Homo sapiens: one gene and its partners. The protein of the gene in region 3 interacts with the protein of the main gene of each other region in a biochemical or structural test. Each region holds a gene or a part of one and is shown on either strand. Other genes may lie near its edges.

Region 1 (7,024 bases), on a different chromosome or scaffold from region 3:
ATTGTAATTTATTTAACCAGTCCCTCATGGATGAGTATTTAGTCTGTTTTCTTTTGCAATTTTGAACAAAATGACACTGAACATCCCTGAACACAAATCTTGACACACACACGTGGATATATTGGTAGAATAAATTCTTATAATAGAACTGTGGGGTCAAATTTTCGATTTTGATACTCTCCAAAGAAGTCATACCAGTTCATGCTCTCACTAGTGGTGCAGCAACTAGTACGCGTTTTTGCTGAAAATTTTTATGATGTGTAACATACACATAGAGAAGTGCCCAAATTACAACTGTACAGTTTGAAGAATTTTCACAAACTGAACATACCCATGTACCCAGCACCCAGATCAGAAAACAGGACATCCCTGGCACCCAAGGAGCCTTCTCTCAGCACCCTTGCAGACGGTCTGCCTCAGGCCTTGAGAATGTCTCAAATGAATGTTCCAAGCCTCTGCTCTTTCCCAGACACTGTCCTAGACTCAATACGGGATCCAAGGATGAAAAAGAGGCAGATTGTTTGCAGGAAACTTGCAAATAGTAGAAAGAAGATACAGCCAAAAAGAAATCTTTTACAGGGTGGAATCGCAGAAGAACCATTAGAGAACCGTAAACACAGCGTTAAGGGACAGCAAAGAAAAGGGTTGCCGGCTGGCTGGGAGGGGCTAGAAAGGCTTTGGTGAGAGATCGTGGTGTTTGAGAAGGGCCTTGAAAGAGGGATGGAGCATAGGGAGGAGAAATGGGATAGGCAGGGGTACAGAGATGGGAAGGCAGTAGTCCAGGGGATAATAAACAATACTGTCTGTGACTTAGTAGGGCAAATAGTAGGAGAAGCCGGGAAGCTAGATTGGGGTCCTCTTTAGATGACCCTTTGTGCTGGGATGAAAGTCCAAAAAAAAAAAAAACTACACCACCCCTGCTTCAGGCCCTACTCCGGTTCCATTGTCCAAGCCCAAGCCCCTCGGTGGGCCGGTGGGGAGCCCTTTGTGGTGGTGCCCATCTCCCACCCCACCTCTCCACACTGCATGGCAGACTCCTGGCACCCTCACTGGGCACTGCCCCACCCATTGCCATACTTCCCGTCCGGCAGACCTTCTCCTGGCACTGCCTTGGATCCCAGCAAAAGCAGCATCTCTTCTAGCCTCTGTTCGCTCCCTGGCTACAGTGTTTACCTTTTTTAACAGTGATGATCTGTGAACACATCTATTTCCTGAACAAGACTTTCAGCTGCTCAAAGCCAAGGATGCTGTCTTGTTTTCTGCATCTCCAGCCCCTTGCACAGGGCCTGGGAGTTTCCTAAATGAAAAAGCGAGTGGGAGTTTGTGTTTGATTCAGCTGAGCATGAAGAACGGTTAGAGATTTGAGGGATGATTTTCCTGGATTTGTAGTCTTTGATATTGTTTACCTGGCAGTGGCAAATGTGGAGGGAGTGAAGTGGAGGGATGGGGACTCGTGGTGGCATTGGGAGGTGGGACCCGAGTTGTGCCCATTGCCTCTGTGGCTGCTGGAGGATCGGTTGTCAACACAGTAGTGTCCTTCTGTGCTTGTATGACCCAAGCTCCTAATCCGAAATTTCTCATTAACAGCCCATGAACCCAATTCCAGCACCGTTGCCTCCTGACATACCAAGCTTCAACCTCATTGGTGACAGCCTGTCTTTCGACTTCAAAGATACTGACATGAAGCGGCTTTCCATGGAGATAGAGAAAGAAAAGTATGTAGCCCCCTGTGCCCTGCTGTGGGCAGCTGTGAACTAGACTGAGTGATTGGGGCCTTGGGAAGCTGGGGCAGAGGTGAGAGGTCGCTGCAGCAGCCTGTCATTACTCCTGCAAAGGTTTGCTCTGCTCTTACACCCTGGAGGAAGAATTTCCTTAATCAGAAATTAAGGACAACAGATCAGCATTCATTCTGAACGAATAAAAATAACAATTTTTATCCAGGATAAAAATAACACTTGACTGGTGAGCTGGAGTTTTTGGTGGCTCTAAGCCTCACCTAAAGTGTAGGACTGGGTTGTTAGCATCTCTGAGTCAGTTCAACTGCTGTTATACTACTGGACTGTAGTCACCTCCTAGTTGTGTTCTCCAGCAACTGGGATCTGTGGTGGTTCCCATGTCTAGAACAAACAAAGGTGAGAGAAGAGACTCAGGCTCGAGGCTAAGGAAAGCTGACAGCTGGTGGGGCCACTTTGCTGCAGTGGGTGGCACTGGGCAGGGCCCCAGCATGGCCTGATCATGGCAGCAATTGCTGAGCTGCCCTCCGTCTTCCCTTTATTGTGGGTAGAAGTGGATCAGAGATGGAAAGGAAAGGATCCCCACTGCAGAGGAAATCTAAGCGAGGGCCCCTAGTTCCCAGAGCTAGCGGTAAGTTGGTTAACTGCTGCTGCTTGCTAGAGGACAACCACAGTAGCTACCATGCATTGAGTGCCTGTGTGTCAGGGGTTTTGGCTTTTGTCTCATTTAATTCCTGCTAACTTACAAACATCAAAATGACATCAAAGGTAGGTTTTCATGTTCCCATTTTATAAGTGAGAACTCAGATTTAGAGAGTTTAGTGAACTCCACCAGCATCCCACAGCTGATGCAGAGGGGTTGAAACCCCTCACCCATCTGACTCTGCAGCCCATGTGCTTTTACCATGGGTGGTATCCTCAGGAAAACCCTTTGGGGAAAGTGTCTCCATGGAGTCCAGTATGGGCAACCAGAACCCAGGCTGTTTTTCTTTGGGCTCTCACACTGAGGGTATAGCTAAGTAGCCAATGAACCAGAGCCTCTAGCTGTCATATCTGCTGTCCATGTTCCTTTCACCATTATCCAGACATATACATTTATGTGGTTGGGATCCGGGATCAGGGTGAAGCTGTTCTGTGTCTGCTATTTTATAGTTTGTATTTTGTTACTATCTTAGTTTGTTTTGGCTACTGTAACAAAATACCAGAGGCTGGGTAGCTTATAAACAACAGAAATTTATTTCTTGGCCAGGCACAGTGGCTCATGCCTGTAATTCCAGCACTTTGGGAGTCCAAGGGGGGCAGATCTCTTGAGCCAGGAGTTCAAGACCAGCCTGGGCAACATGGCAAAACCCCATTTCTACTAAGAATACAAAAATTAGCTGGGTGTGGTGGCACATGCCTGTGGTCCCAGCTACTCGGGAGGCTGAGGTGGGAGGATTGCTTGAGCCTGGGAGGCAGAGGTTGCAGTGAGCCCAGATTGCACCACTGCACTCCAGCCTGGGCAACAGAGAGACACCCTGTCTCAAAAAAAAAAAAAAGAAAAGAAAGAAATTGATTTCTCACAGTTTGGGAGGCTGAGAAGGCCAAGATCAAGGCACGGGCAGAGGTGGAGTCTAGTGAGGGCATTCTTGCTGGTTCATAATCAGCCCCTTTTTGCTGCATGCTCACCCAGTGGAAGGGATGAGGGGTCTCTCTGGAGTCTCTTTTATAAGGGCACTAATCCCATTCATGAGGCTCTACCCTCATGACTGCCCAAAGGCCCCACCTCCTGACACTTTTTTTTTTTTTGAGATGGAGTCTCACTCCATCGCCCAGGCTGGAGTGCAGTGGTGCGATCTCGGCTCACTGTAACCTCCACCTCCTGGGTGCAAGCGATTCTCCTGCCTCAGCCTCCTGAGTAGCTGGGATTACAGGCGCATGCTATCACGCCCAGCTAACTTTTGTATTTTTAGTAGAGATGGGGTTTCACCATGTTGGTCAGGCTGGTCTCGAACTCCTGACCTCATGATCCGCCCACCTTGGCCTCCCAAAGTGTTGGGATTACAGGCGTGAGCCACCACACCCAGCCGGTGATTAGGTTTCCACATATGAATTTTGAAGACACGAACATTCAGACCATAGCACTTCTTACCCTTGCACATATTGGCAGAGTCTCTATACTAACCATGGCAATCCCTATGGAGTGTTTTTGGTATTTGTATTGCATGGTTTTTCTGGCCATGCCTTGTAGTTGGACACTTTGTGGGTGGTTTCCAGATTTTCACCATCATAGATGCTGTCACTCAGTGTTATCTGTTCTCAGGTGAGGGTGGGGATCTTTTCTTCCTTGCGTTGGGTGAGCTTCTGAGTGAGCTTCTGTCATCTTTAGATGAAGTCTCAGAACAAGTGGGAATGTGGATGTGGCCTATCAAAAGAGATCACGTGAAGCTGGGCGCTGTGGCTTATGCCTATAATCCCAGCCCTTTGAGACCAGGGGTTCAAAGCCAGCCTGGGCAGCATAGCAAGATCCTATAAAAAAAAAAAAGAGTTTACTTGAATTACTGCTCCAAGAAGGGTTGAGACAAGGAGATTGTTCTGGGTTCCCAGGAAGCTTGTTTCACGTATGTTTTTTTTTTGTACAGAACGAAAAGCTGTCCATGAGAGCTGGTATTTGTAGAGCCCCCTATGAGAATTTACCAAGGGCTTTTCTACTCTTTCTTTTTCTTTCCTTTTCTTTTTTTTTTTTTAAAAATAGAGACAGGGTCTTGCTATGTTTCCCAAGCTGGTCTCCAACTCCTGGGCTCAAGCAATCCTCCTGCCTCAGCCACCCAAAGTACTGGGATTACAGGTGGAGCCACCGTGCCTGGCCTCCTACACTGTTTTATTTAATCCTAACCACGGCCCTGTGATCATTATCCCAATTTTAATGATGAGGAAACATTCATAGCATTTAAGTGACCAGCCCAAGCTCCCATGGCCTGTGAGTGGCCAAGTAGAGACGTGAACCCCAGGCCTCAAACCCTAGATCGCACACCAAGCAGCTTGTGGGCCGCAGAGCACCTGAGCCGTGTCTCACTGTCTGCCCAAGCCCTGATGCATGATACCCTCTTGCCGGCAGAGTGGAATACATGGAAAAGAGCAAGCATCTGCAGGAGCAGCTCAATGAACTCAAGACAGAAATCGAGGCCTTGAAACTGAAAGAGAGGGAGACAGCTCTGGATATTCTGCACAATGAGAACTCCGACAGGGGTGGCAGCAGCAAGCACAATACCATTAAAAAGGTACCCAGGGTCTCTTTCTTGTATTTTGCTGATCAGGACCATCATTAATGAAATGTGCGGTTGGCATCTGGTTTCCTCAGTAGCCAAGTCACTAGACTATTGGCATCTTTTGTATGTACTTAGTTGAGGAAATTTTTTAACTTATGCCAGAAAGGGAATTTAATCTGCCAATGACTATGAACCCATTGGCTGGATGGAAGTTGAGCTTGTGTTAAAAGCTCTGATGTAATGAACCCCTGTTACAGGGTGGATTTTGAGCCCTCATTTAGCAGTAAAGCATAATGCCCTTTTAAGCCAAGGGGTGTTATACCCAGGGAGCTGCCTTACTTTATGAGAAAGCAGAATGAAATGGAGGCTATTGAGAATGGACTTTCCCTCTAGTCTTGTGGTGTCTTTAAGTGGCAAGGACTATAAAACCAAACTGAATTTTTAACTTTTTTCATACTTAAAAGGAAGTGTCTAGGAAAGAACCTCTTTGTTTTAAAAGAGAAGACTTTATTACTTTGCAAATGGTTTCATATCTTTCTCTACTGGTATTTTGAGCTTTCAGCATTGTCGAGATTCAGAAGCTAAATTCCATACTAATTATCAGCCCAAGAGCATACCTCTCTCATTTGGGCCAAGCAGAAGGGTCCTCTCATACCAAATAATGCTCTGCTCTTAACTGATAGCCCAGGACCAGGTTAACACCTATAAAATAGGTGTTATTAAGATAAGACTGTCCATTGAGTTTAGGTGATACTGATACAGTTAATTTTTTATTCTTTACCTCAGTCTTTAAAATAGGCTTCCAGTTTTATGGACTGTCTCTGTTTTTAGTGGTTAAGCTGTATCTGAAAACTCCAGGGGATCTGTTTCTGCCTGCCTTCGTTGTTGGGTACAGTAGGCAGCCCTGACTTCTACCTCTCGACTCCAGTCACAACTGGCACCGGGTAGAGAATTCCTTTTAATAGTGCAACCTAGAAGGAAAGGCATTTCCACATTCCACATTCTTCTTTCCTCTGGCTTCTGTAATTTACTGGGCTTCCCTTCCAAAACAAAATTATTAAACAGTAAAGGGGAGTTCAAGGGAGGCCTCGGTCATTAAGGAAAGAGGTAAAACGATGGCTGAGCCAGTGAGCCAGTCAGCCCTTAAATGAACTGCCTCAGACACCCCATCTCACCCCTTACCCCCAGCCTTGTCATCTGGGTCCCAGGAACAGTCTCACCATTTCCACTGCTGCTGCAATGAGCAGTGCCCTCAGCCACAGAAACCTGCAGTGTGAGAGCTGGAGAGACCCCGTTCCAAGCCATTAAAACAAACAAAATCACTCATCACGATTTCAGGCCTATCCAAGCATTTTGCAGATGGCACTTATGGCATTGTTGATATCACAGGGTATGTTTTTGTTTTTCTTCATTTTATTTTGCTGGTTTAGCCTCAAGCCCAAGGCAGAAGACCTATCTGCATTTGAGCCCTCAAAGTAGGTTGTTCCCAGGTACTCTCTATGTGGTGATGGTGCTGCCCTCTGTGATACTAACCCGTGCATGAGCTTGCCTGTCTCTGTCCTCGGGCCACACTGAGCCCTTACGAGGGCAGGTGGTGCCTGGGTACTGGCCGCAGCATGCTTTGAGTCTAAAAGTAGGCACCCACCCTGTGAAGCCAGACCAGCCTCCAGGGCCCCAGAAGACTGCCTCGTTCCGAAGAGCATGTCATGGGGCTGTAGGACCAGCCATTCTTCCCATCTCGGGTCATTGTTGGGCTGGGGAAGGTTATGGCTTCTTGTCCAGTCAGGTGTGTCTAAAAGTCCTTTGTCTTGGTGGCATACTCCTAGCATGGAAATGGGGTCAATCTGGGCACTTTGGAGACTGGTGTGTTTAACTCAAGATCAAGACCTTTTATGCGTTGACAGCCTCTCAAGACCCATGGTCACACCTGGCAGCTTCTGGTAGTGGGGCAAAAGGGTTGCTTGTGCTGGCTCATTTTCCTTTAGAGCTTTCCCTTTCTGCACACATCCCTTTTCTTTTCAAATAAAGCAAACCCAGAGCACA
Region 2 (8,005 bases), on a different chromosome or scaffold from region 3:
CACTTAAACTATTTCAAACTCGATGGAGAAGCCAGAAGAATCCCTTCCAGTTCTATAATTCAATGATTCTAGTAATTCACCTTGGTAATTTTGCAAGACAGGCTAGCCTCTGCTCAGATACCTTAAACTGCCTGAGATTTGGAAAGTTATTAAATGTTCACCAACTTATATTCAAAGGAATGCTGGTATATTCATTACACTATTATTATATTCAGTGCCTTCTATACCTGCATGAGACAAAATTTTGTGAGACACTGACTTGTTAATTACAGTTAAATAGACGTCATAAACAGTTTATACGTTCTCATTTTGGAATATTTTTTCTGTTACTACCTTATTACAACGGTTGTTACAGAAAAAAAAAAAACATACAAAGCAGCTTACCAAAAATATACAACAAGATTTAGCACAAATTTCCTAATAATCAGCCATGAGTTACTTTTTCCATGATTAAGGGAAGGCCCCTCATCTTCTAAGTTAAAATTTTAAGCAAAACACTTGTGCAAGATCACACACATTTTTGTGATTTCCCATTCAAATTTCAGTATATTTGTTTCTTATTAAAATACGGGCAAACTTTCCTTTAAAAATGTACGTATTTGTTGAATACTTTGTGAAAAGAGCTGTTCAGCTATTAATTTGAATTTTTTACCGGCCAAATGTATACTCTATGGCTTAGTAGTTAAGGTGAAATAATTTTTTTAATGCTATTACATTAAAAACACTCTTGGCTGGGTGCGGTGGCTTACGCCTGTAATCCCAGCAGTTTGGGAGGCTGAGGCGGGCGGATCACAAGGTCAGGAGATTGAGACCATCCTGGCTAATACAGCGAAACCCCGTCTCTACTAAAAATACAAAAAATTAGCCGGGCGTGGTGGCACACGCCTGTAATTCCAGCTACTCGGGAGACTGAGGTAGGAGATCGCTTGAACCCAGGAGGCGAGGTTGCAGTGAGCCGAGATCGCGCCACTGCACTCCAGCCTGGGCGACAGAGCAAGACAACGTCTCAAAAAACAACAACAACAACAACAAAAAACACTCATATCCATCCTAGAGAAGCGTGAAAATGTAAAAGTTCTTGTTCAAAATTCTTGTCAGGTGGGGCGCGGTGGCTCACGCCTGTAATCCCAGCACTCTGGGAGACGGAGGCAGGTGGATCACCTGAGGTCAGGAGTTCGAGAGCCAGCCTGGCCAACACGGCGAAACCCGTCTCTACTAAAAAATACAAAATTAGCTGGGCTGGTGGCGCGGGCCTGTAATCCCAGCTACGTGGGAGGCTAAGGCAGGAGAATCGCTCGAACCTGGGAGACGGAGGTTGCAGTGAGCCGAGATCGCGCCACTCCCCTCCAGCCTGGGAGACAGAGCGAGATCTTGTCTTAAAATAACAACATTTTTGTCAAAAAAATCTGCAAGTTAAGTTCTTTCATGGTGATCCTCGCAAAATAGCATTTCTCATCCAAAGGCCTCAGAACAGCCGCCAGCCGCCGAGCTAACTCGGGACCCTGTTACCGGCTGCTTGGCGCCCTGGTCGGGTGGGTTTTACCTTCTTCAGGGTCCATTCCTCGCCTCGCCCCCCGTTCCCAACCCTCGGGACACTGGAGACTTGCATTTCACAAACGGGTTTGCTCCAGGCCGCACTCCATCCCCGAGGGAAAGCTCCCCAGAAGTTCTGGAGTTGGGCTGAAGGATGTGATGGCAAGATGTGAATGATGTCAGAATCCCCATCTCCAGAGTCCGGCTGGGGAGCTAAGCGCAGGTGAGCTTACATCAGAAGAGAAAGCCAAACCCCCCACACGTCGCTAAACTAGGGCACGGGAATGGCGTGTTATGCAACGGCCGCCGTTCGCGTGGCCACGAAAGCGCTCCTGCGCCTCGGGCCGCGTCCCGCCAAGACCGTGAGCAAACTCGCAGAGTTGGCGCGGCAGCCGGCCGGGAGACGCCGAGCAGGGCCTGGCCGCCCGCAGCCCGGGAGGAACGGCGCCCCCAGGGTCCGGTGGCCTCTGAGGGGCTGACTGGCCCGTGAGCCGGCGGCGCGGCCGCGGGGAACGGGGTGGGAACCGCGCGGCAGTGGGTGAGGCGGCGCAGCCACCGGGGGCTGAGGGGCGGCGCGGCCTCGACTGCGGCACCGCCGTGGGTCCGTCGGCTCGCGGGACGACGGGGCGGCCGGCGGGGGCCAACAGGGCGGGCTCTGAAGGACTGATTGGCCCGTGGGACGATGGCGCGGCCGGGAGGATGGCCCCGGATCCGTGGGACCGCTGCGCCGCCGGACCGGGGGTCCCGAGGCTGTCAGGGGCGCCCGGCCGGGCGTCTAGTGAAAAGCCGATCCCCCGGAGACAGCGGAAGCAGAGGCGCGCCCGGCGCTACGGCCTTTCGGGTCTAGGACACCGCCCCCGGCCCGCGCCGCCCCTGCCCCGCCGGGATCCCGGCCGCCCCGGTCGCCGCACAACAAAGCGGCGCAGCCCCGCTGCCCCCGCCCGACGCCGGCCTCCAACTTCCCCGGCTCCTCTGGAACCGGCTCCGCGGGCTCCGTACGGCCTGGACTACGAGCCGCCGGGCGGGGGCGGCTCCGGGCGGGCGCGGACCGTGGGGGCAGGGCGCAGGGCTCCGTCCGGACAAACTTCCTCGGCCGCCCCGCCGGGCGCCCTTCCCGGAGCCTCGGCACCACAGTAGGTGCGCGGAGCCGCAGGGCTCGACCGCTTCGCGGAAACTCTCGCCACCCTCCGAGCTGCCGCCCCGACCCCAGCTCCCAGCCCCCTCACCTCCAGGGGCGCGGTCTACACCCTCGGGGGCGTCCTGGCCGGCGGCTCCCGGGCCTCTCGCGCCGGGAGACCGGGCACTGGTGGCTGGAGCTGCTGCTGGCCCCGCAGGGACGGGGGAGCCCCGGGCGGCGGCGGTGGCGTGGACGGCGACTGCTCCATCTTCCCGGGGCGCTCACGCCGCGGTTCCAAAGCGCAGACCCAAGTGGGACATTCGCTACATTGTTGGCATTCCACGGGCGTCACGTGACCCCGCCTCCCGCGTCACTCTCGGCCGCATACCAGTCCGGGCGGGGCGCCTGCGGCCCCTGCTCCTCCGCGGCCGCTCCGCCCAGCCCCGCCCGGCCGTGCTTCCTGCCTCCGGCCTCGACCGCCACCTGCCCACGGCCTCCCTGCTGGCCTGCGGTAGCTCGCCAGGGCCTCTCGGACCTATTTGACTGGCTGCTATCTGCCCCCAAACTTGAGTATTTGCCCTCTCGACTGCATTTGTATTAAAAGTTGGTAACTGTCGTTAAAGCCACTATTCTTAAGTATCTCATACCAGTCTTGGTGAAAGAAAAAAAAAAGTTAGCAGGCCTGAAGGAGCCACCAAGTTACCAACTAGTGGCTGGACACTAAAAATAGGGGCAGAAAAGGACAGACGGCTATTGGGACAGTGGAATCAAACAATTAAGAAGGACGTTTGCCAGAAGCGGTGGCTCACGCCTGTAATCCCAGCACTTTGAGAGGTCTAGGCGGGTGGATCACCTGAGGTCGGGAGTTCGAGACCAGCCTGACCAACTTGGAGAAACCCCCGTCTCTATTAAAAATACAAAATTAGCCAGGCGTGGTGGCTCATGCCTGTAATCCCAGCTCTTCGGGAGGCTGAGGCAAGAGAATCACTGGAACCCGGGAGGCGGAGGTTGCGGTGACCTGAGATCGCATCATTGCACTCCAGCCTAGGCAAGAAGAGCAAAACTCCGTCTCAAAAAAAAAAAAAAAAGAACGTCTGATGCACACCCAAATTTAACCTGATTTAATTTAATCAACCTCCCCTCCCCATGTATATTTTCTTTCTGAGAAGTATTTTATGGTGTAGGGAATAGTATAGTACCGTATATACCAGCAAGTGAGGTCGTGGGTTTTGAACAGCTTCACTATCCATTTGAGGACTGTGGATCTGGTACAGGGACAGAAGCAGGGATGGTGCAAAGATTCACAGTAGAAATAATAGACTGGAAGCCAAATCCTCAGTCTACTTCTGGCTCTCCTAACATCATACTTCCTACCACCTATATCTGTGGCAAGTGATGCTGAGGGTCAATATAGTGTTTAAAGTCAACTCGATTTCCTCTTTAATTGACAAACTCTTGTGAAATTTTTAAATTTTACTCTCATGGGAAACAGTAGTAAAGGTCATTATCTGTGCACTATTTTGACAGTCTCACCCAGCCTTCAGTCCCTGGTTCATCCTCCTCCCCTCCCTCTCTTTCAATCTCTTAAGGCCTCAGCTCTTCCAGGGAATCTTCTCAGATCTCTGTTTTCTCTCTTCTTTGGGCTCTGATAATCAAACCGTAATCCCTTCCTGCCAGCAGAAGTGTGCAAAAAAAAAAAAAAGAAACCATCATCGTGCAGCTTAGAATTCAATTTAATTTTTCGATAGTATCCTGTATGCTACCCAGATATCTTGCACAGTACTGGGAGCAAAATAAGTCTCCAGCCAATATTCTGCAATTGAGCCCTACTGGCATTACCTATGTACTTTTCCACATTTTTTCCTTTTTTTCTTAGAGACAGAGTCTCACTCCATTGCCCACGCTGGAGTGCAGTGGCACAATCATAACTTACTGCAGCCCACATCAGCCTTGAACTCCTGAGCTCAAGCCATCCTCCTGCCTCAGCCTCTAGGGTAGCTGGGAACACAGGCGCACACCACCATGCTTGGCCTTCTTTTCACTCTTAAGCTGACTATACTTTCTCCACCCCAACCCCAAGCCACATGGCTGCTAATCTTTTTTTGTTGTGTGTTTAAAGATCCTGCTCCTGCTCTGCCTTCAAAGATGTAAAAATAATTTTTAAAACACTTGTGGAATGAAAAATATTATAAAATAGATTTAATGGACCTTAAAATTTGTGCATAAAATACCTAATAAAAATGTTGCAGTTACAATGATCATTTCAGCATTGTTTGCAGTAGTGAAAAATTGAGAAAAACCCCAAATGTCCAGTCAAGGGGTAGGAAAATGAAAGGTAGATATCCAAATGATGGAATATACACAGTAGCTAAGTTAATGAACTAGCTCTGTAGTTGTAAAGGATAAATGATGGTAGAAAGAATTCAAAAGCACTGTGGAGTGAAAAAAAGCAAGTTGCAGAACTATATATATACACTGTGATACCATATTTATAAATAATCAAAATCCCACAGAACCTAAAATGATCACATACTTTATATAAGTATAGACATAGAATGCAATATCACACACACCAAATTCATGACAGCTGTTGTTTATATTAGAGGGAAGGAGGGAAATTGAGCAGAGAAAAAAAATGAAGACTTCAACTTTACAATGCTTTCTTTTATTTAAAAAACGGAAATAAAACTCAAAATCTTAAAAGTTGTTGGTTCTGGGAGGTTGGGTTCAATAATGTGTGCTATACTATTCTTTGTGCCTTTTTTAAAAAACATTAAAAATTTTAAATTTTATATATATATATGAATACAGACAAATTGGAAACAAGTTTCCAAGATAGGGGCTTGGTTGGGAAAGCTGACACGCTCACATGGAAGAATGTTGTGATTAACGATTTGTGTTTATTAACATGCAGTCATTCATTCCTTCTCATTTTTGTTTGTTGTTGTATGTTTGGGTTTTTGTTTTGTTTTCTGTTTTGTTATCGGTACCTGCTATGAACCATGTGCTAAAATTAAAAAACCCATGTTTGGGTTTTTGTTTTGTTTTGTTTCTGTTTTGTTTTGTTATTGGTACCTGCTATGAGCCATGTGCTAAAATAAATCATACTTGGGATAACATGGTAAGCAAAACCATAAGATTTATCCCCTGATGGGGTTTATAGTGTGGTAGAGGTAGAGGTGTTCAAGAAAAACACATGCTGGGCATGGTGGCTCATGCCTGTAATCCCAGCACTTTGGGAAGCTGAGATGGGTGGATCACTTGAGGCCAGGAGTTCGAGACCAGCCTAGCCAACAGAGTAAGATCCCATCTCTACTAAAAACAAAAAAAAGAAAGGAAAAACAGCAACAATATAAGTTTATTTTATATGTATATACAATAAACTATGTACACATGTATATTTTTTAAACTATTTTTAAAGCCCAGAAAATTACACAGCCAAATGTTAAAAGTGGTAGTCTCTGGATGTAGTGTAGTGATTCTGAATGGTTTTGTCTTATACTTCCTGATACTTCTATAGTAGGATAGTTAACATAATTTTTTTTCTTTTTTTCTTTTTCTTTTTTTTTTTTTGAGATGGAGTCTTGCTCTGTCGCCCAGGCTGGAATGCAATGGTGAGATATCAGCTCACTGCAACCTTGCAACCTCCATCTCCCGGGTTCAAGCAATTCTCCTGCCTCATCCTCTGGAGTAGCTGAGATTATAGGCATGCTCCACCATGCACGGCTAATTTTTGTATTTTTAGTAGAGATGGGGTTTCACCATGTTGGCCAGGCTGGTCTCGAAATCCTGACCTCAGGTGATCTGCCTGCCTTGGCCTCCCAAAGTGCTGGGATTACAGGCTTCAGCCACCATGCCTGGTCCAGAAAATGTTTTAAAGTTAATCAGTTAAATAAGCACATCTACATAATGTATCTAGCTGAGAAGAGGAGAAAAAGAGACAACACAAGACCAGCTGAGCATAGAGCGGACAGTAGTAACAAAATTGGAGTGTATAAATTAACTGACATAGTATATACATATGTGTATGTGTGTGTCCTTATTCTATACCAAGTATTGCTCTAAATTTGTATATTATATCATTTAATTCTCAAAACGACCATGTTATTCAACCCATTTTATAAAAAAGGATCCTGAAATGCAGACGGCTCAAGTAACTTGTCCAAGATCAAAGAGCAGAGATTCAGACCTTCATAGATCTAACTCCAGAGATTGGAAACACTGAATTATAATGCCCTCTCTAGATAATCTCAAGAAGTCATGAGGCTGGGCATGGTGGCTCACGCCTGTAATCCCAGCACTTTGGGAAGCTGAGGCTGGTGGATCATGAGGTCAGGAGTTCGGGACTAGCCTGGCCAAAATGGTGAAACCCTGTCTCTACTAAAAATACAAAAATTAGCTGGGCGTGGTGGCAGGCACCTGTAATCCCAGCTACTCGGGAGGCTGAGGTAGGAGAATTGCTTGAACCCAGAAGGTGGAGGTTGCAGTGAGTGGAGACCAAGCCACTGCACTCTAGCCTGGACAACAGAGCAAGACTTCATCTCAAAAAAAAAGTAAAAAAAAAGGCACATGATTACAACATACTCATAAGTAAGGAAACTGAAAACAAATTACTCCCTTATACTTCCTCTGAAAGGGGAATGGACTTTGTGGAGTGAGGAAGAGGGGAACTCAGAGACTTGTGTCTCCAGCCTCAACCAAAGCAGAGAACGATTCCAGGCCTAGCAGACACAGAGAATCCACTTGCTTGTGAGGCCTCTGCAGTTGTGAAGCCAGGATAGTGTAGGGGTTCTCTCCCTAAGGCTCCTATAGAATATCAACTATGGCTGGGTACGGTGGCTCACACCTGTAATCCCAGCACTTTGGGAGGCCGAGGCGGGCGGATCCCTTGAAGCCAGGAGTTCTAGACCAGCCTGGCCAACGTAGCGGAACCCTTTCTCTACTAAAAATACAAAAATTAACCAGGCATGGGGGTACATGCCTGTAATCCCAGCTACTCAGGAGACTGAGGCACGAGAATCGCTTGAGCCCAGGAAGTGGAGGTTGCAGTGAGCCGAAATGGCGCCACTGCACTCCAGCCTGGGCGACAGAGCCAGACTCTATCTCAAAATAAAATAAAATAAAATCTGCCTAACTACAGAAGAATGTTCTCTATGGGCAGTAGCATAAAAATAGAATAGGATCAGATCATGCAAGACCCAGACAACCGAGAAGAAAACGGAACATCGACTTGTTTCATTTGTTTTAGAGTCGTTTTATATCCATATACAGTAGTTTATGTCCTTAACTAAATTATGCATTCCTTAAGAACAGAGAAGATATTCTCCCCCAAAAACCATATGTAAAGAACATTTT
Region 3 (7,024 bases):
CTGATACAGCACAAATAAAGCCTCTGTCGGGTAAACACCAAAGCATTTTCCACACGGTACTGCATTTTAAAATAGCTAACTTTATTGTCAGTGAAAAGATAGGCACAAAGTGGATTTAAACCTGCTTAACTTTATTGGAACTAGCTCAGTTGATTACAGAATGGGGTCACAATCATTAGGGGACCACATACATTTTAAACCAAAGGCGATTCTTCTCTAGCCATCTGCCAACCCCAGCTATCCATTTTACAAACACATGCCATTAATCACAAGGGAGGCCAGAAGGAGGTTTCATGGCTCCATGTAACCCATCGTTGCTACTGGAAAAAAATAAACAAACTCCCGACACTTGTCCTACTGATGATGGATGGCACTTGGAAGACATATTTCCAAGAATCGTGGCAGGCTGAAATTGGTGGCAATTAGCCCACAGCTGATACCTTCCTTTGAAAACATTTTCAGTAAGAATGCACACGTTTTAAGTAACATATTCCATATGCACATAAGCAATTGAGATAATAGGAGACTGTGTAGCTAACAGATATGAGAATATAATTGATCAAAGTTAGTGCATATGTATACACTTTAAGCTGCCGCATTATGAGGGTTTAGGCTTGTCATAAAAAGTAGTTTGCACAATCAATCAGTTTGTTCATTTTCCAATTGTTATACCCACCCAACAGTGTAACAACAAAAAGAGAACATGATGGGTCTCTGGGTATCTTTCCTATGGCAGATGATGGCAGATATTTTAGGTTCCTGCTGTCCTATTACCTTGAAGCTCAAAAGCAGCATTAAAAGGAAATCCTTCATTAAATCAACAATCAAGATACATGATTTTAAAAGAAAGCTCAAGCTACTTTTTATTTCAAAAAAAGACTGTTAATAGGAGTTTCATATCAAGTAAAGTTTGTTCTAATGAAGTTTTTCTATACATGGAACACTGGGGTACAACTGAATTAGAAGGTCCTCAGAGATCACCAAGCAGTACAAGCTAAGACAACCTGGTCACCCTCCTTTCCTGAGGTGCCGGTAAAATGCACAGATAGGTAGGAGTCCAGAAAGATCCCCCAAATGTTATATCCACACAACTGTGAAAAGGTGGCTAATTGAGATTTCTCCCATAAACTTGAATTTTTGGAACAAAAACTAGTGGAGATCTTCTGAAAAGGCTGTATCTATCTTCTGCATAATATACTGACATACTCTTCTTCCCTCTCTTGGATGTACAATGTTATTTTAGCAAATTATCGGGGATTGGAAACTGAACAGAGAAGAACTGTCTCTGGTGTGAGAGGGTTCTGGAAAGTTCAAAATAGTACTCAGCCAAGAACTTCTTCCTTTCCCCAAAACACATGAGTCTAAAGAGATGGCTACCACACAATGTGGAATGTATGACATTTGTCACCTTGCAGAATGTGATTAAAATCATGGCTCCCAGAGCCAGCAAAAAGTCTGCCAATGTGTTATAACCATGAAAGGAGTAGGTGAAAAGTGTTTTTTAAATTATTTGGATAGAAAGTAGCTCTCCTGAAGTTTGCTACTTGCTGCTTCTACTATTTGAGTGTTTTTTTCTCCTTATGACTAAAGGGTAGTATGAAAGAGTCTTAACACAACTGCACTTTTAATTTCTATCTGAGATTCACTTTATAACTGAGGACTAATGTGTATGTAACATGATTACCTCATTATTGAAAATGTGAAAGGACTAGCTGAAAATCACATCACCCTCCTTTATGTCTCTACACACACACAGGCACACACACAAAATAATTCCTTTGGAAGATAATTAGGAAGGATACCATTCCTATACTCACAGAGGAACCCCAAAAGATTATCTAAGATACCCAATCTCCTAGAAAGAAGTGGGATTGGTTTCTCAGGGGGACATTTATGTGACTCTATGTTGAAATGCAGATCAGAAAAGGGAAAACCTTTTAAAAGGCACTGAAGGAGAGGCAAGACAGAAATTCAGTAGTTTGTCAAGACTGGACAAGCTACTCCAACCAGGTACATTTTACAAGATACATATTCCCTGGACCATGAAGATGCCTTTTCATAAAATGGAATTTAAAAAAGATAAAGAGTTTCCCAAAATAAGCATGGTGATTGGCATAATGGTTAGCTGTGTTGTATGACTTTCAAAAAGTCACTGAACCTCTCCAGTTCTCAGATTCCTCATCACTAAAATGAGGAGGTAGGGCTATATTGCTAAAGTTCTTTCCCACCACTATGGCTCATGATGTAATATATCAGGCCTACTCTTCTATTAATCTGGTTTCTAACTAAGACATCCCAAAACCTCTACCCCCAACCCTTACCTAACACCCCCCACTTCCCTCACCCTCCCTATACCCCTTAAAACTGATCTTAATGATGCTATCTGCAGATTTCTCACCTTAATGAAGGGCAGACAGGTGACACAGGGCAGGGACCTGTGGCAACTGGCATCCTTCTGTGTCCTTGGAGGCAGCCCTATGGCAAGGCTTGGAGCCATTGCCTCCTTTGATCTCTACCCACATGCACATTTCCTGCTGCTTCCCAAAGGTATTCCAAGATGGTGTCACTGACAGTGAGAAGAGGTAGTTGAGGATACTGCTGCAATCCACCTCTCCCCCGACTGCAGCATAGTACTTTGGGTTTCTCAAGCTATTCCCTTGGAGGTGATAGTCAAAAATGCCTTTTAAGACATATGCTTAGAATTTGACAAACAAAACAAGTTATTTCAAAGTAGTCACCAGAAATTCAAAGCATTCAACCTGTCAACAAAGATCCTTCCTCACTTTGCAAATGATTGGCAATTTGAGACTGGAGACCCAGCCAGTGAATCTGTGCTGTAGAAGAAATAAACACTAAGCTGATTGGTCTTACTAAATGCAAGCAAGCTGTGTTCATGGCTACACACAAACCATGGAAGTCTGCATATAGCACCCCATGCAACTCTCCATCAAGGCCTCTGATGGTCTAATTCCCTAAGAGAGAGGAAGTTGCGCATCACTCAGTTAATGTACTCTCCCAGCATCTGAAAGCAATATATTAATTATCCAAATGCATAAATTACTCCAGAGCATATATATGAATGTATGAACCTCCAGGAGGGAACCAAAAGAATCCATTTCCAAAGCACCACTGAAATGAAGACAAACACAATTCCCTGGGGCAGGGTAGCTGGGAAACTGGAAGAAAAAATTAGCTCCAGTACCCTTCTGCACCCCAAAACTCCCTACCTTTTTTCCAGCTTACATAGCTCCTGAAACTATTCCCTTTTGTAAGCCTGAGGTGAGTGCTTTCTCCAGCTGCTGCACAGGATAGTAACTATACAAAACAGCACACACTCAATTCTCTCTAGCTTCCCACTTCCAAACTACGTGTTATACACTGTCTTCCACACATACTGTGCTCTTCAATAAAAAATGATCTAGAATATGGAAAATTTAAACAAATTTAAGCACATTGAAAACGTCGATGTATAGCCACCTGTTAACAGTCCCAGTATTCGTATAAATTCAAACAATAAGCTTTAGAGCACATTCTGATTAATCTGTCTTTAGAGGTACTCCCTAAGCATACCAAAATAGACTGGTGTTCACATGGTATTACTCAAGTAGTACATTGTTCCAATAAAAAGTCCTGTTAAAAAACATCCCCTCCCCACAACCCTTGTCCTCACCCTCAAAACAAGAACCAATAAAAGGGGGAAAATGATTAAAAGCATTTTTGCTGATAATCTGCAGCTCTTGATTTGGCCGTTTAGATGAGATATTCCACCATCTCTGCATCAGGCTCTTGTCCCAGGATCTGAATGGGAGTTTTTCTTTCCAGAGTATTGGAGTGGAACACAGGCCCATCTAAATGGAAATAAGGGTTAGAAAACACTTAGGGATGAAGAAAAAACCCATATTTCTAGAACCAGACACCATCAGAGCCCTCATGAAGCCAATGGCAAAGTGAGACTTGCCTGCCACCTCCCTCATTTACTTCTGCTAAGATAATGGCCTCTACTCATGCCTGTTCCCATCTTGGTGGATGAGAAGTCATTTACAGACTCTCTTCTCTCTCCTTTAGAACGTGAAAAACTCAGTCCAAATGATAACTCTGCCCAGACATCAGACAACAAGAAATAAATCTGTATTTGAGAGCAGAACTAAACCAAAACCTACCTGCTAAAGGGAATAATTACCTGTTTTGTCTGGATTGCAGGTCAAACTTGGTATAGACAAACGATGTGGTCCAGGACCGGTAGCTGGACTTGCAGGAACCTCAGCCTGAGCCACAGCTGGAGTTGGAGTTGGAGCTGGAGTTGGAGCCACAGCCGGAGCTGAAGTTGGTGCCTGAGTCTGAGCAGGAGCAGAAGCCTGAGCCGCTGCTGGAGCTGGAACCGGAACCAGAGCCGGAGCTGGAACTGGAGCCGGAGCAGCTGGAGCAACCTGAACAGCAGCAGCAGCAGCAGCAGAAGGAGCAACGGCAGCAGCTGAGGCAACAGAGGCAGCAGCTGGAATCTGACCAGCAGCAGCTGGAGAAACAGCAGCAGCAGTAGCAGCGGCAGTGGCTGGAGACGGGGCAGCAGCAGCAGCTGGAGCAGCAGCAGCAGCAACAGCAACTGGAGCAGCAGCTACCATGGTGGTGGTGATGGTGGCAGCAGTGGCAGTGATGGCGGCAGCAGTGGCGGCAGCAGCAACTGGAGCAGGAACAGAGATGGGAGCAACAGCTGCAGTTTTGTTCGATTCCGTCCCACGTTCAGTTTGGGTACTGCAGTCTCGGCTGCCTGTCTTGGAGTGAGCCGAGAGCAGGGGAGTCGAGGGTGGCACAGGCGAGGGTGTGGAAGGGACATATTCAGCACGGTAGTCTCCACCCAGGAGAATGCCTACAAATGAAAGAGGAACAGATGTTAGAAAACAATAGGTGATTCAAATCCAGACATCTAATTACCTGTTCTCCCATTCAAATTTCAGAAGAAATTTATTTATTTTTAAATAAGTAAATATTATTTAAATATTTAAAATATTATTATTTTTAAATATTAAATAATTTAGAATAGTCTAAGTTATTTATTTTTGCCTCCAGGGAACCCAGAAATCAGTGTGTGAGGCTCCTCCAACCATGGCTAAAAGTTTCCTACAGACTTCGAGGATCCCTTCTGGTCCTCATCCATCACCTGGCACAACATATTAAGCCTGTAAGTGACCTGGGTATCTGTTTTGATTTATTTTTCCAATGGTGATTGGGTTCCACCAAGTTGTCAGAATGCTCCTACTCGGCTCCACTTATAAACCATTACCACACGTTACCAGGGAGCAAGAAAGGATCTGGGGAAGAAGTCTGTTGACACAGATTGAGTGTGGTAATAATTGTGTGATCTGAGGTTCTCACCATGACCATAGTCCCCAAAATGCTTATTCTAACCAAAAGATATTACAAGTATCAGAGGACCAAGAAAGGAATTAACAGCAACAAAAAGGGTTAAAATAAAAATATATATAAGCTTCCTTCCTCGGGCTCTAAAAATGTGCCTCGTGGTATCCACAATATGTCTGGGGTTTTGATTAGAGGGGAGGGAATGGACAGGAACGGAATGAAAAAGTACATTCTGTTCTCATCTCACAACACTGTGGGAACAAAACCTGCTACCCAAACGATTTAGTGTAACTAAAACTCTGGGTTCTCCTATTATAGAGGAGGAAGGAACACAGAAATGCCGGAATTTTGACATTTGGAACGACACAAAGGCCACATGGGCTTTGGAGAAAGATAAAGGTGCCACATGGCAAAGGCCAAATCTGAGAATAGTTTAGAGGAAATTAGAGTTATCTTCCTTGACACCCAAATGAAACTCAAGATTCTTGTCCTCTAAGCCTTGGCCTCAATCGGTATTCTCACCGGGAGACTTCAAAGTGTGGAGGAGCTCCAGAATGTGGAACTAGGGTCTCAGGAGGAAAAAAAAACTCCAAAACCCTGGTACACCTTCCTCTCTAGAACCTGGACCATCATCCCTTTTCCTTAAGCATGGGTGCTTATCTCAGGGCTCTCTTTGAACACGTGACTATAATCTTCCTTATTTACTGTCATTACCTAGGCTCCCCTTCCAGCTCTTGTCGTCTCGCTTTTCTTCCATGATGGGGGAGCCAGTCAGGGTGGATGAGTGGGAGAGCAAGCCTGATCCAGCATTGGAAATGGACATCAGAGACTTCGCTGGCCGCATGCACGACAGCTGCTCTGTCTTGCTCGGCTCCTTCCGGGAACGCTGCTGGAGTACTTTGATCATGGCATCCTTCTCAATAATCTGGGCATGGAGGGTCTTAATCCTAGGAGCCAAAGGCAAAGAACATATAAAGACCTTGTTGTGGGCTGGGCGCGGTGGCTTACGCCTGTAATCCCAGCATTTTGGGAGGCCGAGGTGGGCGGATTGCAAAGTCAGGAGTTCGAGACCAGCCTGGCCAACATGGTGAAACCCTGTCTCTACTAAAAACACAAAAATTAGCTGGGTGTGGTGGCAGGCGCCTATAGTCCCAGCTACTCGGGAGGCCGAGGCAGGAGAATCACTTTAACTTGGGAGGCGGAGGTTGCAGTGAGCCAAGATAGTGCCACTGCACTCCAGCCTGGGTGACAGAGCAAGACTGACTCCATCTCAAAAAAAAAAAAAAAAAAAAAAAAACCTTCTTGCTACCTCCACATTTTGGTCTAATTGACTACATGACTACGTGGAGCTCCCATTATCTTTTCGACTAAAGGCTGATCTAGTTAGTTCTGAGTTGGAAAACAAGGGATGGTGTGCTACAGTTTTTAAAACATGTTTTTTCTTTTTTCTGCACACCCAAATGGATACAGCAGAGCATCCAGGAGCTGTTGCTTAAATCTTAGTAAGTCACAATAAAGTACCAGTGAAAAAAAAGGCTGAATATGAGAGAATGAACTGATGTACTAGGTGCTGTAGTGAAGAATCTCAGTCAATGGAAACAATTTACTCAGTGAGAAGATGAGATCTATGAATGAGCGACAACCTGCAGGTAGTAAGTAAATGATCATG

The links. Proteins that work in one complex are often made in the same cells at the same time.
Region 1: the proteins of AMOT (region 3) and NF2 form a complex in vitro, tested with the Homo sapiens proteins (2 studies listed by BioGRID and IntAct).
Region 2: of the proteins of AMOT (region 3) and LATS2, one has a biochemical effect on the other in vitro, tested with the Homo sapiens proteins (3 studies listed by BioGRID).

The regions. Positions count from the first base shown.
Region 1 is NC_000022.11:29,676,609-29,683,632, forward strand, and holds part of NF2 (merlin), read left to right. Parts: intron 1-1,587; coding exon 1,588-1,715; intron 1,716-4,830; coding exon 4,831-4,993; intron 4,994-6,411; coding exon of another isoform or gene 6,412-6,447; exon of another isoform or gene 6,448-7,024. UniProt on the Homo sapiens protein: Probable regulator of the Hippo/SWH (Sav/Wts/Hpo) signaling pathway, a signaling pathway that plays a pivotal role in tumor suppression by restricting proliferation and promoting apoptosis.
Region 2 is NC_000013.11:21,058,587-21,066,591, forward strand, and holds the start of LATS2 (serine/threonine-protein kinase LATS2), read right to left. Parts: upstream 3,001-8,005; 5' UTR 2,760-3,000; intron 1,820-2,759; exon of another isoform or gene 1,544-1,819; intron 1-1,543. UniProt on the Homo sapiens protein: Negative regulator of YAP1 in the Hippo signaling pathway that plays a pivotal role in organ size control and tumor suppression by restricting proliferation and promoting apoptosis.
Region 3 is NC_000023.11:112,774,817-112,781,840, forward strand, and holds the end of AMOT (angiomotin), read right to left. Parts: intron 6,303-7,024; coding exon 6,070-6,302; intron 5,973-6,069; exon of another isoform or gene 5,902-5,972; intron 4,865-5,901; coding exon 4,181-4,864; intron 3,849-4,180; coding exon 3,751-3,848; 3' UTR 61-3,750; downstream 1-60.